Linked DNA regions of Homo sapiens: regions 2 and 3 are each reported to be linked to region 1. Evidence: microRNA targets listed by miRTarBase, many of them from high-throughput screens and not tested one by one. Region 1 holds a microRNA gene; each other region holds the end of a gene's coding sequence. Distances are between the middles of the regions.

The links. The annotated mature microRNA hsa-miR-4266 reads CUAGGAGGCCUUGGCC and lies in region 1 at 2,898-2,913, shown strand. An mRNA with a match to its seed (bases 2 to 7 or 8) in the 3' UTR can be bound and repressed. Matches are read on the target gene's strand: a 7mer-m8 pairs with bases 2 to 8, a 7mer-A1 pairs with bases 2 to 7 and ends in A, and an 8mer does both.
Region 2: the mRNA of SLC25A34 is a reported target of hsa-miR-4266. Seed matches in the 3' UTR shown: 7mer-m8 at 1,748-1,754.
Region 3: miRTarBase lists TYW5 as a target of hsa-miR-4266. The part of its 3' UTR that is shown has no 7-base or 8-base seed match.

Annotation. Positions count from the first base shown.
Region 1 is chr2:109,312,373-109,316,493 of GRCh38, reverse strand. It overlaps MIR4266 (microRNA 4266), which reads left to right and starts at 2,869; the gene lies at 2,869-2,923. The region is part of intron 1 of SH3RF3 (SH3 domain containing ring finger 3); the gene reads right to left. It also overlaps a transcript of RANBP2 not described here.
Region 2 is chr1:15,738,618-15,742,738 of GRCh38, forward strand. SLC25A34 (solute carrier family 25 member 34) reads left to right here. Exons shown (of 5, transcript NM_207348.3): 4 at 1-111; 5 at 607-2,775. The coding sequence ends at 789. TMEM82 (transmembrane protein 82) reads left to right here and starts at 3,882. Exons shown (of 6, transcript NM_001013641.3): 1 at 3,882-4,030. The coding sequence starts at 3,943. It overlaps SLC25A34-AS1 (SLC25A34 and TMEM82 antisense RNA 1), which reads right to left. Exons shown (of 2, transcript NR_149050.1): 2 at 1,434-1,605. RefSeq lists enhancers at 2,992-3,061, 3,463-4,121.
Region 3 is chr2:199,929,487-199,933,607 of GRCh38, forward strand. TYW5 (tRNA-yW synthesizing protein 5) reads right to left here. Exons shown (of 8, transcript NM_001039693.3): 8 at 1-3,837. The coding sequence ends at 3,581. Among named protein-coding and RNA genes, the nearest start is that of C2orf69, 20 kb to the left of the region's middle.

The sequences.
Region 1 (4,121 bases):
CCATGTCATGGGCTACCTTGTTAAAGGCTGTGTGTAGTGAAGATCACACTGACATCACACCTGTGTTCCTCCTGTGATAGACAGGAAGCCAGAGCCAGGGAGAAACATGGCACCAGGGCTTCTCCAGGAGCAGGGGCATGTAGAGCCAGCCACCATCACCTGGCAACATGTCCTCCCTCCATCCCCTTCCCAGCATCCACCCAGCCTCCTGGACCGAGGCCCACAGCACTGATAGCCCAGTTGGAGCTGTGCAGATCTGCTGCGAGAGATGAAGCCCAAGAGCCAGGACACTGGTGGAACCTTCCCCAGGCCCAAAAGTTCAGCAAAACCAGCTCTGAACACCTCCTCCAGCCTGCCTTGCCCTCTCTTTTTGAAAGCTTTAGGTTTTTCCTGCTTTACAATTGCATACTGGAAATGCACTTTTCTAACCACATCTAATCTCTAAATACTGGGAATCTTTGCAATTTGGGTGAAAAAAGCCCCTGATGCATGCACATATAATCTCACACAGTCAGACCAAAAAGACTTCTGCTAATGCATCTCAAAAGGCTCCATATTCTCCAAAACAACCCAGAGACACAGACCTATGCTGGTCGCAGGTGACGTTCTGGGAACTGGTGGCTTTGATGCCTAGATCACGTCCTGACAGGTAAGATCAAAGGTCATTCTAGGGTGGAAAAGCGACGACGTCCCTTCCACACCAAGGCAGCAACCGGCATTCACCTGAATACTCTAAATGTCACAATAGCCAGACATAATGAGATGAAAGAGCCCCAGAGGAACCCTGGGTGGGAAAGCCTGGACTGAGACAGAGCTCGCCCCTTTATAGACTGCCAGGAAAGCCTGCACAGGCGTCTCTTCTCTGGACACACACGTCCTTGTGCATCACTGACAGTTTCTGAAAGTTCTGCACAGACAGTGCACAACAGGCACACATGGTCCCCTTTGCTTACACCAAAAACGGATGGTCGTTCTGTATATGCACATTTTCATACTGAGACAGTTCCTTACTGCCTCTTAGTAAAAGCAAGTGCATTCTACAGACACAAGCTATTGCTTCCCTGCAACTATCCTACAGAGATAGGGACAGAGGTTTACTTTGTTTTGAATCACTAATGGAGTTGCAAGACTCAATGAACAAAGCACTTTACCTGGCTTGGCATTAGTTAAGAACTCCAAGTTGGTGTTGGACCCAGGGCCCTATTAAATTGCTGGGTGTTTCCCAGTGGGCACGTCTTTCTGCCTTACTATGGAGAGACTATAGCCCTCTCCACTCAGAGGACTCACACTTGACAAGGGGGACCCAGAGAAAAGTCATCAAATAAGACTTTCTGCTAATTATACTCAGTAAAGTAAAACAGGTTTCCTTTTTCTTCATTATTGTGGAGCAGTGCTGTCCAGTGGAACTTTCTGCACTGATGGAAACGTGTCGTGTATGGGCTCTTCAATGTGGTCGCTGTTCACTGAGTGTGGTCGGTGGCTACCTTATGGGACAGTGCAGCTCTGGAATGCCTGCTGGGGGTTCTCAAACTGTGGGCTTTGCCAAGAATGAGATTCATACGGGGAGACGAAGTTTCTTTTGGTCACCAGCGAGGGCTTAGCTCTGCTTCAATCTCTACCAACTCAGAGGGTCTCCTCTAATATTTTGGTGGTCTGATTCTCCTATTCACTAGACAGAAATATGATGCCAGTACTGTCACACCCTAAATTAAACAAAACCAAAATGGCAAAATAATTTACAGAATAAGAAATTGGCTGGTGGATATTATGCACTTGTAAAAAGATTCATCAAAGGTTTCATCAAGGAGCTGGTTTGCCTTATGCATGTAAAGGAGGATTAATTTACAAGTTTATACAAACCTTTAAAGACCATGGAGAGTGACAGACACATGCAAATTAAGATGGAGACACTATTTATGAAGTGGCAGGAATAATAAAAATGTATTAGTTGATGGTGCTATTCATATGGTAGAGAAATTCATTCCTGCACGGAGGTGACATCAAAGGTCATGCCGTTTCAGGCTGACCTGCTTTCCCCAGGGCAATCTGGTTCCTACCCTCTATCTCTGCTCCCTGGCTATACCAAGGCAGGGTTACAATCACTCTTATAAGATCTATGGGATTCACCCTTCAACGGAGCCATTTTCTGGAACCCTGAGCCTTTGGGATAACTGAGGATTTATCAGTTTAACCATTTCAAGAAATAAAACTTTCTCCTAAAACATATGCCAAGCCCCTGCTTTCTCAAGCAGGCAGCATTAAATATACATGACCCACATGGTTCTGGTGCCCCCATCTCTGGACACCCACCCGCTGGTCTCCCGGGACACAGACCACGACCTTGGCACCTGCAGTTAGGTGACTGCCCAGGCCTGCTGCTTTCCGCTACTGTGTCCCCCAAGTCCACACTTGCCCCGGGTCTCACGGCCCCTCTCTTCCCCCATAGCCTCTTCCTTTTCTCAGTGTCCAGTGTCCCACAGCCTGGTACTCCTTCTTGTCACTTTCCTCCCAGTTCCAAAGCCTTCAACTGTCTTGTGCCCTACAAAACAAAGTCCAAACACGGCACCCTGCATACGGGTCCCAACACACCTTTCAAATATCTCCTCCACTGCCACTCTTCAAATCCCTCTGCTCTGGCTGAGCCCACCTCCCTCCTCTCCCCCACATGCACTGGAATAAGCCCCTCTGTTTCACTCATGCTGCCACAGCTGCCTGGAGCAGCTGACCCCATCGCTACAAAGAAACCGGAAGCACCTTTCAGCTCAAGGCACATGCCATCACCTACAGAGAATCAGTCTCTCTCCACTCATCTCCCAGAATGTTTTCTTCCCATCCCCCTGGGATGTTGAGCCTGAGAGGCAGTGAGCCCCACTGCTGGCCGGGGCCCCTACTCAAGGCTAGGAGGCCTTGGCCAAGGACAGTCCCTATCTGGGCCTCAATGTCTTCCTCAGTGATGCTTAAGACCATTGCGATGACCAACTGGTACAGCGCTCACCCAGCAAGGAGGGCAGGGCCTGGCCCATGGCAAGCACCCAAATGTCAGCCAGGGAGGCCTGGCCTTGTATCCATGCCTCTCATGAGCACATCTTAAAATATGACACTTCACCTGCAGTCTCATCCCGGGCTGTGCATTAGGCTGAACTGCATTTAAATAAATGCAGCAAGAAACACAGATGCCAGCCTCCCCCCTTGGGATGGATGTACAGCAGGTTTGGGGTAAGGCCTGGGCCTTGTGAAGAGGAATAGGGATCCTGATATCATGCCGGTGTCAAGGATGCTGGCATAGACAAGCTCCCTAACCCCTTTCCAGGTCCCCTGGTTCTTCCCAGCTCAGCCCATGCACACAGATGAAGCTGACAGGCACAGGGCAAATATTACCTACAGTGTGAGCCAGGAGCACCACCTGCCTCTGAAGTATGTGGATTGCATGGGTTCCCTGTCTCCTGCCTCTTCTTAACACTGCAGATTTGCCCACCTGTCACAAATCAGCCCCCTTCTTCCGCATTACTGTAGATAAAAGTGAAATCCAAGGGCTGCTGTGGAAAACATAGGGCGGCTCTTCAATAACGTACACCTAGGATGACCACGTGACCCAGCAAGTCCATTCCTAGGTATACACCCAAAATCTAAGACAGGTGTTCAAGCAAATGTTTGTACCCAAATGTTAAGTGCAGCTCTACCCACAAGAGCCAAAAGGTGGAAACAGCCCAATGTCCGTCAGCAGATGAATGGATAAACAAAATGTGGAAATACCATACAGTGGGACATTCTTCAGCTATAGAGGGGAATGGAATTCTGATATACTCTATGATCCTGGATGAACTTCGAAAATACGAAGTAAAAGAAGCTAGACCAAAGGGCCATGTATCGGATGATTCCACTTATATCAAATCTCCAGAGTGGGCAAATTCACAGAGAAAGAAAGCAGGTTGTGGTGGCCTGGGGCCAGGAAGAAGGGGCCCAGCGGGGTGGCTGCTGATGGGTAGAGAGTTTCCTTTTGGGGAGATGAAAACTTCCCAAAAGGAAACTTCTGGAACTAGACAGTGCTGACGGTCGAAACATCATTAATATAATAAAACATAAATTCCACTGGCACACTTTATAATGACTTTCATGTTATA
Region 2 (4,121 bases), not on the chromosome of region 1:
GTGGCCCTGGCTGGGGGCATGATCAGCAGCATAGCCGTGGTTGTCGTCATGACTCCCTTCGATGTGGTCAGCACGCGGCTATACAATCAGCCGGTGGACACAGCTGGCAGGGTGAGCAGGGGCGGGTCTAGGGGAGACCGTGGGGAGCTGGGAGCACCCCCCCAACACACACACACACACACACACTCTCACACACTCACACTCACACATGCACAGCCAGAGACACGCAGACACAGGCCAGGTATGCAAACACATTAACTGGGCTTGTTTGCTGAGCCCCCGGGTCCCAGGCACAGGCTAAGCACTTTCACATCTGGATTTTATTCCATCCTTATAATCACATTCATCTTCCTGATGAGGAAGCTGAGGCTCAGACAGATCAACTGACTTGCATGAGTTCCCCCAGCTGGTAAGGGGAGGAGCCAGAACTGGAATTCAGGCCTGACCCCACAGCCTTCCCATGGCGCCGCAGCCTCACAGGTGTGTCCAATACAAAGGTGCTGTCCATAGGGTGTGTGGGGGTGAAATTGACCCGTGTGCCAAGATGTGGTGCCAGCCAGGGCCTCAAGGCCCCTGTAGTAACACTCACCCCATGTCTTTCCCCAGGGCCAGCTCTATGGGGGCCTCACCGACTGCATGGTGAAGATCTGGCGGCAGGAGGGCCCCCTGGCACTCTACAAGGGCCTGGGCCCCGCCTACCTGCGCCTGGGCCCCCACACCATCCTCAGCATGCTCTTCTGGGACGAGCTTCGGAAACTGGCTGGGCGGGCCCAGCACAAGGGCACCTAGACGACGGCCCTCACCCCCACGTCCTGACACGGCCGGCACTTGGCCGGAAGTGAGAGCCTGCTCCAGGACAACTGGCTGTCCCGGGGCGGGCCATGGGCCCAGGCCCTGCCAGAGGTCCCGGGAGAGTGTGGACAGCTCTGGTCCATCCAGCCCCTTGGCCCACCCAGGTCCAGAGCATCCACTTCAAGTTACCACCCATTCTGTCTTCCAGACAGTTCTCTTCCTTCTCTGTACTGCGTACTGGGTCACCACATCCCAGAGCCTTGCTCAGTTATAGCAACTGCTGCGGGCGTGCACATGGCATAGGCCCAGTAACTTACATACATCGGCTCACTTAGGCCTCAGACAGCAGCACGAGGCAGGCACTTTTACTTCTTTTACCATTAGAAAGCCAAGGCCTAGAGTGGTGGGCTTTGACCACAGCCACACAATTTTGAAGTGGCAGAGCCAGGACTGGAGCTTAGCCCTGCTCACCCTAGACCTATGCGCTTGACAAGTGCGTGACTGTGACAGGCCCATGGGCCCGGACTGCCCATAGGGGTCACTGTACCATGGCAAAGGCTGAGGTGCACCAGGAGGCTGTGGCGTCGTCACCTGCCTTATTTGCTGGAGAAGCTGTAGCAAAGAACCACAGACTGGGCGACTTAGACAATAGAAATGTATTTTCTCACAGTTCTGGAGGCTGGATGCTGGAGACCAAGGTGTCAGTGGGCTGGTTTCTTCTGAGGCCTCTGTCCATGGCTTGCAGATGCTGCTTTCTCTCTGTGTCTGCACATGGTGGTCCCTCGATGTGCGTCTGGGTCCTGATCTCCTCCTCTTATAAGGACACAAATCATGTTGGCTTAGGGCCCACCCTCATGACCCCACTTTAATTTTTTTTTTTTTTTTTGAGATGAAGTCTCACTCTGCCACCCAAGCTGGAGTGCAGTGGCACGATCTCGGTTCACTGCAACCTTGGCCTCCTAGGTTCAAGCAATTCTCCTGCCCCAGCCTCCTGAGTAGCTGGGATTACAGGTGTGTGCCACCACACCCGGCCAATTTTTGTATCTTTAGTAGAGATGGGGTTTTGCCATGTTGGCCAGACTGGTCTCGAACTCCTGACCTCAAGTGATCCACTGGCCTTGGCCTCCCAAAGTGCTGGGATTACAGGCATGAGCCACCTCACTTGGCCCAATTTTAACTTAATTATCTCTGTCAAGAGCCTATCTCCATATACAGTCACATCCTGAGCTACTAGGGGGTAGGACTTCAACATGCACTTCTGCAGGGGCCGCAGTTCAGCCAACATCATCTTTTTTTTTGAGATGGAGTCTCGCTTTGTTGCCCAGGCTGGAGTGCGGTGGTGCAATCTCGGCTCACCACAACCTCCACCTCCCAGGTTCAAGTGATTCTCCTGCCTCAGCCTCCCGAGTTGCTGGGACTATAGGTGTGCGCCACCATGCCCAGCTAATTTTGTATTTTTAGTAGAGACAGGCTTTCGCTGTGTTGGCCAGGCTGGTCTTGAATGCCTGACCTTGCCGCCCGCCTCGGCCTCCCAAAATGCTGGGATTACAGGCGTGAGCCACCGCGCCTGGCCTCAGCCAACATCATCTAAGGGCTCTCACGGAGGGCCTCCCAGCTGCCCGCCCTGTGGGCATTTGCACATATCCTGACAAGCCTGAAAGAAGCTCCGGGTGCCCATTGTTCAGTCCAGGTGCCCATTGTTCCCGGGACTGAGGCCCGGGAAAGGGAAGCGACGTGGCAGGGCCAGCAGCAGACCCTGGGCCTTTCTCTAGACTGAGCACCATTCCCCGTGGGTGTGCTCTCAGCGCCGCACCGACCTTCACACTGCAGAGATGGATGCCAACTCCCTGGCAGGGGCAGGACTGCTGCCGAGCAGCCCCACCTGCCCTCCCAGCCACACCCCAAGTCTGTAAGGGCCGCTCCCAGGAACACCTGCTACTGCACACTCCAAACCAATAAAGTTTTATATTTTGTTTACTTCAACGACCCTCCTCTGTGGTGAATCTCAGTCTCCCCCATCCCTGACCCCCACCTTCTGCTCCCTCTGCCCTTTCTGTTTGTGAAAGCAGGATGGGAGCCGTGGTCCACCTGTTCAGCTCCGCCCTGCTGGACCCAGGTGAGGCCTGCCACCTAGTGGACCCAGGGAGGAGCATCAGGAAGGGCGGCCCCGGCCTGTGGGAGGAGAAGGCTCAGGCAGGCTCGGGCTGCAGGAGATTCCACACCGAGTCAGAGCCGGAGGCTTTGGGAAGCTGGAACCAGACCTTACAAAAAGCAGGCAGAGCTGACCTCCTGGCTGTGGGGGAAGAGAGCCCCAGACCTCAGGCTGAGAGGGCACAGCTGATCTCTGGCTATGGGGGGATAGAGTCCCTACTCTCAGACCCTGGGCTGAAGGGTCAGAGCCCACACTTCAGGCTGCAAGAGGACAGGACCCACACCTAAGGCGGGGCAGGACAGATGGAGCCTGGGACTTCGAAGGGGCATTGGGTGGTTCAAGCCCTCAAGGAAGATTGCTATTTTTTTTTTTTTTTTTTTTTTTTAGACAGAGTGTTGCTCTGTTGCCCAGGCTGGAGTGCAATGGTGTGATCTCAGCTCACTGCAACCTCCGCCTCCTGGGTTCAAGCCATTCTCCTGCCTCAGCCTCCCGAGTAGCTGGGATTACAGGTGCCTGCCACCACGCCCGGCTAATTTTTTGTATTTTTAGTAGAGACAGAGTTTTACCATATTGGTCAGGCTGGTCTCGAACTCCTGACCTTGTGATCTGCCCACCTTGGCCTCCCAAAGTGCTGGGATTACAAGTGTAAGCCACTGCGCCTGTCCTCCCTCAAGGAAGATTTCAAGTAAAGTGGATGCCAGACTTTAGCAGGGACAGAGACCAGAGACCAGCCCAGAGACACCTGTCCCTTCACCCCACACTGCCCAAATGGGGAGCCCGGGCAGCAGCTGGCTCCAGGCACCCCGTGTGCCTGGAGCTGGGACCTTGCCCTTCTGGGCCTCGAAGGGTTAACACCCCTGGCTCTCCTCCCCTCCCCTCCCCTGGGCCTTTGACCCCTCCCAGCCTCTCTCCTTCCCTCCACCGACACCTTTGCCCAGTGACGTTGGTCTGTCCTTACGCAGACCTGGCCGGAGGCTGGGGCTCCTTCCGGGGCTGCCATGTTCTCTCTTCCATCCCTCCCCTCCTGGCTCCCCGGCCTCCCCTCCCTCGAGTGGGGCTCTAGCCTCCTTGACTCCCTCCTGCAAGGTGAGCACCTCGCCCCATTCCTGCCTTGGCCCCGCCCCCTTCCAGCTCTTTGCAGTGCAGGGTGGACCCCACCCACCTGGTCTCCCGACAC
Region 3 (4,121 bases), 91 Mb from region 1:
GCACTGGGGAAAGGAGTCACAGCAGCACAGTTCCAATTCCATCCAGGCCTGCCTTCCAGCTTCCTGCATTTTTTTTTTTTTTTTTTTGTCAACTCCTTTGATGTCTGTTGGCAACTTTTTATAGGTGATAGAAAAGCCGCCTTACTAAGGTTCTTTCCAAATGTTCACATAGCTGCTGTTCAAAAGGATGAAGGATACAAATTAAGTTTTGTTGACTTTGTTTCCTTTGTTTTGGTATTTTATCAAAGTGAGTTAGAAATTAATTACAGGACAAATAGAATTCTAATGTATTCAAATACCAAGACAAATAATGTTATGAAATGCTAATAATTACACTCTGTTTAGTTTTTTTTTTTGAGACAGGTCTCCCCATGTTGCCCAGACTGAACTTGAACTCCTGGCTTCAAGCACTCCTCCTGCCTCAGCCTCCCAAGATGCTGGGACTACAGGTGTGGACCACCACTCCCCAGCTCTGCATATAATATTTTTTTTTTTTTTTTTTTTTTTGAGACAGGGTCTCACTCTGTCACCCAGGCTGGAGTGCAGTTGCACAATTCCAGCTCACTGCAACCTGCACCTCCCAGGCTCAAGTGATCCTCCTATCTTAGCCTCCTGAGTAGCTGGGACTACAGGCGCACACCACCACAGCCAGCTAATTCTCTGTATTTTTGGTAGAGACAAGGTTTCGCCATGTTGCCCAGGCTGGTCTCGAACTCCTGAGTTCAGATGATCCACCCACCTCGGTGCATATAGTATTTTTAAAATGTATTTTGAAAGGATAATGTGAACAAAAGTCCAAATAATACAAAACTAGATTCTAAGCAGCCCACCTAGTTGAACCTCTTCTTGGAGGCATAATTATCACTGGTTTCTCGTGCATCCTTAGAGATAATTATATGCATATGCAAATAAGATGTTCACACACCACATACCTTGTTTTACACAAATGGCAGTACAGTTTCAAATATGTTTTTCATGTAACATTTAATTTTTCTATTTTTAGTAGAGACGGGGTTTTACCATGTTGGCCAGAATGGTCTTGATCTGACCTCGTGATCTGCCCACCTCGGCCTCCCAAAGTGCTGGGATTACAGGCATGAGCCATGGCACCTGACCCACCATTACTTTTATTTTGAATCTTGTCTGTGTAGCAAGCAGTGCAGTGAGAAATTTTGTTGGCAGAGGAAAAAAATTCCTTTTTGCATCAGGTCAAGCCCCCAAACTAGCCAAAGAAAAGCTGTGTAATCTATTCAGAAGTACTGGAGATGTGCTGCACATTAGGGAGAATGGAGAATTACTGGTCACAACGAATCCCGGTTTCTATCACCCATAGCTATGTGAACCCAGACAATCATTAAGCAATCTGGGTTGGTTAGATGGCTTCTAAGATCTCTTTCAATAAAAAAGTTCTAAGATTCAGAATTCCTGAGAAGTTGCAGCTAACATACACTGTATAAGATTTTATACATTAAAAACAAACATCTCATTTGGTCTTAACCCAGTAGGAAGAAAAGATTAAAATATTTTGTATTTGAAATAAACAGACCCTAATATTAATTATGACCAGGGAAATAATTTTAAAACATCCCAAAGGAAAGTTCTCTAACTTTTAAAATATTATAAATTAATACTGCAACAGGAGCTACCTCAAATCTCTCAACAAAGATGGAATATAATTAAATAGAAGAACTAGCACCAGTTATCAACTATGTGCCTGCCCTTGAACTCTCTGCATTTTTGTAGTTCTGTTTTAAAGATGAGGAAAATAAGCTTCATAGATAAATGTTATTTTGTCTAAGGTCATCCAGTTTGCTTCTCCATTAAACAATCAATTAAGATGACTATTCAGTGCACAAACTGTAATCTGTTTTATTAATACTTCCAAGTTTTCTACATGACTCTGGATTTATACTTTGTATCAATTCTCTTGCTGGTTAAGAAAAAAAACAAGATTTATTAAAAACTGACCATAAATAATGTGTAAACTAAGGAGAGTTTTGTCTTTTTCCTTACTGAAGGACAAGGAATCAGTAAAGAAGTTCTTTGCTTTGCTTAATGAAGATCAAAACCTGGTAATTAAATTTGGCTAATATAATCATTCCTTTTCTGACAAGACTTTTTTCACCTTTATTCACCTGAGTAACTTACCTGTTTCCAAAGACACCTAGGAAATTCAGAATGTTATATATGCTTTTCCTTATTTACTATAATTTATAGGACATGAGTGGATGGATTCTCTTCAATAGAGAAAATGATTTTCTCTAATTAAAATGCACCAAATTGATGTACTAAGAGATTGCTTTAGATGAACACATTTATGTTCAGTGAAGATTATGTGGTCTTCAATGACACTGCAATATAATTACTAGGTACAAAACAAAAGCAGAGATCCACACACAATGGCTCACTGTCTTCGATGACAACACTTTTAGGATCTCATTTATTCATTCTTTAAGTAATTTTTCTTTTAAAAAAGGGATAGGTGGAAAAAATAGTTGGGAAATCTTTAACTAGGCTAAGGTTTAGACATAGGTATAAATTATTTATTTTGTAACATTCAAAAACCAAAAACCACCCTGACATACTGGGTGGCAAGAAAAGTCAAGATCAGATTAAACATTTGTTTTGCACTAATCACAAAACTAATAATCCAAGTCACTATCATCAACTCCAGTTGATCTCAGCTCTGATTATGCATCAGAACACCCTGTGAGGTCTATTAAGTTCCTATACCAAATCCCAAACACTCTTGAATCAGTCTACAAAGTTGGGACCTAGGTATCTGTACATTTTTTAAAGTTCCTCAAAAAATTCTGCTTCTAGGCAAATGTAATAGATATTGTGCGTTGCTCATGTTTTTCCTATCAGAACCATGATTTTAAAAAAACTATCCTTTCTGTCCCCATATATCCCTCATGTGGCCTCCACTTCTACTCTCAGCTCCAGTGGACCTGACTGCCCTAAAGGTTATTCTAGACCCTTTGCCAGTGACTGGCTCAGGGATGGACAGGTCTAAGTTACTTTAGAGCAATGAGACCTAAGGATATGGAAAGTGAATTCTGGGAAAGCTTTCTCATACTAGGACAGGGCCCCTAGAATCCAGCCTGACTCTTCCGCTGCATGTAAATGAAGATGCACAAGGCTCCAACTGCTACTGGCAATCATCCCATGACCACGAGGGTAGCCAGCCTTAGGATGATGCCAATGTTGTGGTTGAAAAGGGGGTGGGGTGTGGAGGCGGGTTCCCAAGGTTCTTGATGACATTACTGAATCATTGGATCAGAAACACTGCAGCACATTCTGTCAATAGATTTCATGTATTGTGAATCAATATATTTTCTTACTGTTTTTAAGTCATTTTAAGTTGGACTTTTAGTGGTCAGCATCTGAATGTTAAAGAGTGGTCCCAGCACAGCATTCTTTAATTATAACAATCTGTATCAAGTAGAATCCACACAAACACCCCTTCGTACTTACATAATCTGTAAATCTGATGTATCTTTCCTATTTTAACAAAATCTTTAATTTATATCGTTATACCTTACTAAAGTGTTAATGTGCATTGCATTCACTTCATTATTTACTCAGAGTTCTTGCTGTAGGCTTTGTCTTGAATGTGTAGGACCATTCGTCGTGCATAGAAGTCCCTATATTCCTCTGGTAACTCGGCCAGTGTTTTCAAGGCTCTGTCCAGAATTTGTGCAGCTCTTGATGCTGCTGTAGGATCTTTGTTTCCATAGGTATCTGTTTTATCATAGCATTCAGATGGAAGGTGCTTCCAAAAGATATTCACTCCCACTCCAAACTCTTCAGAAATTACATTATGGAACCATAAAGCTGGAGAAAGTTTAAAAAACAAGTTAAAAATAAAACCTACAGTTAAAAAAAAACCCAAAATGTCAGTGAAATATCACGAATTGCATATAGCCAATGTAAGAAATAATTCTTGTAACCAGATCCCTTCGTTAGCACACTCCAGGCTTTTAACAGAATCATTTTAACTTTTATGAATTGCCAACAAATTTAAAGTGTCAATAGCACAACCCTTACTTTTAAAACCTTTAGAAATAGCAATTTTTCCTTTAAACTTGAAAGACATAATAAAGATATATTTGTTTTGC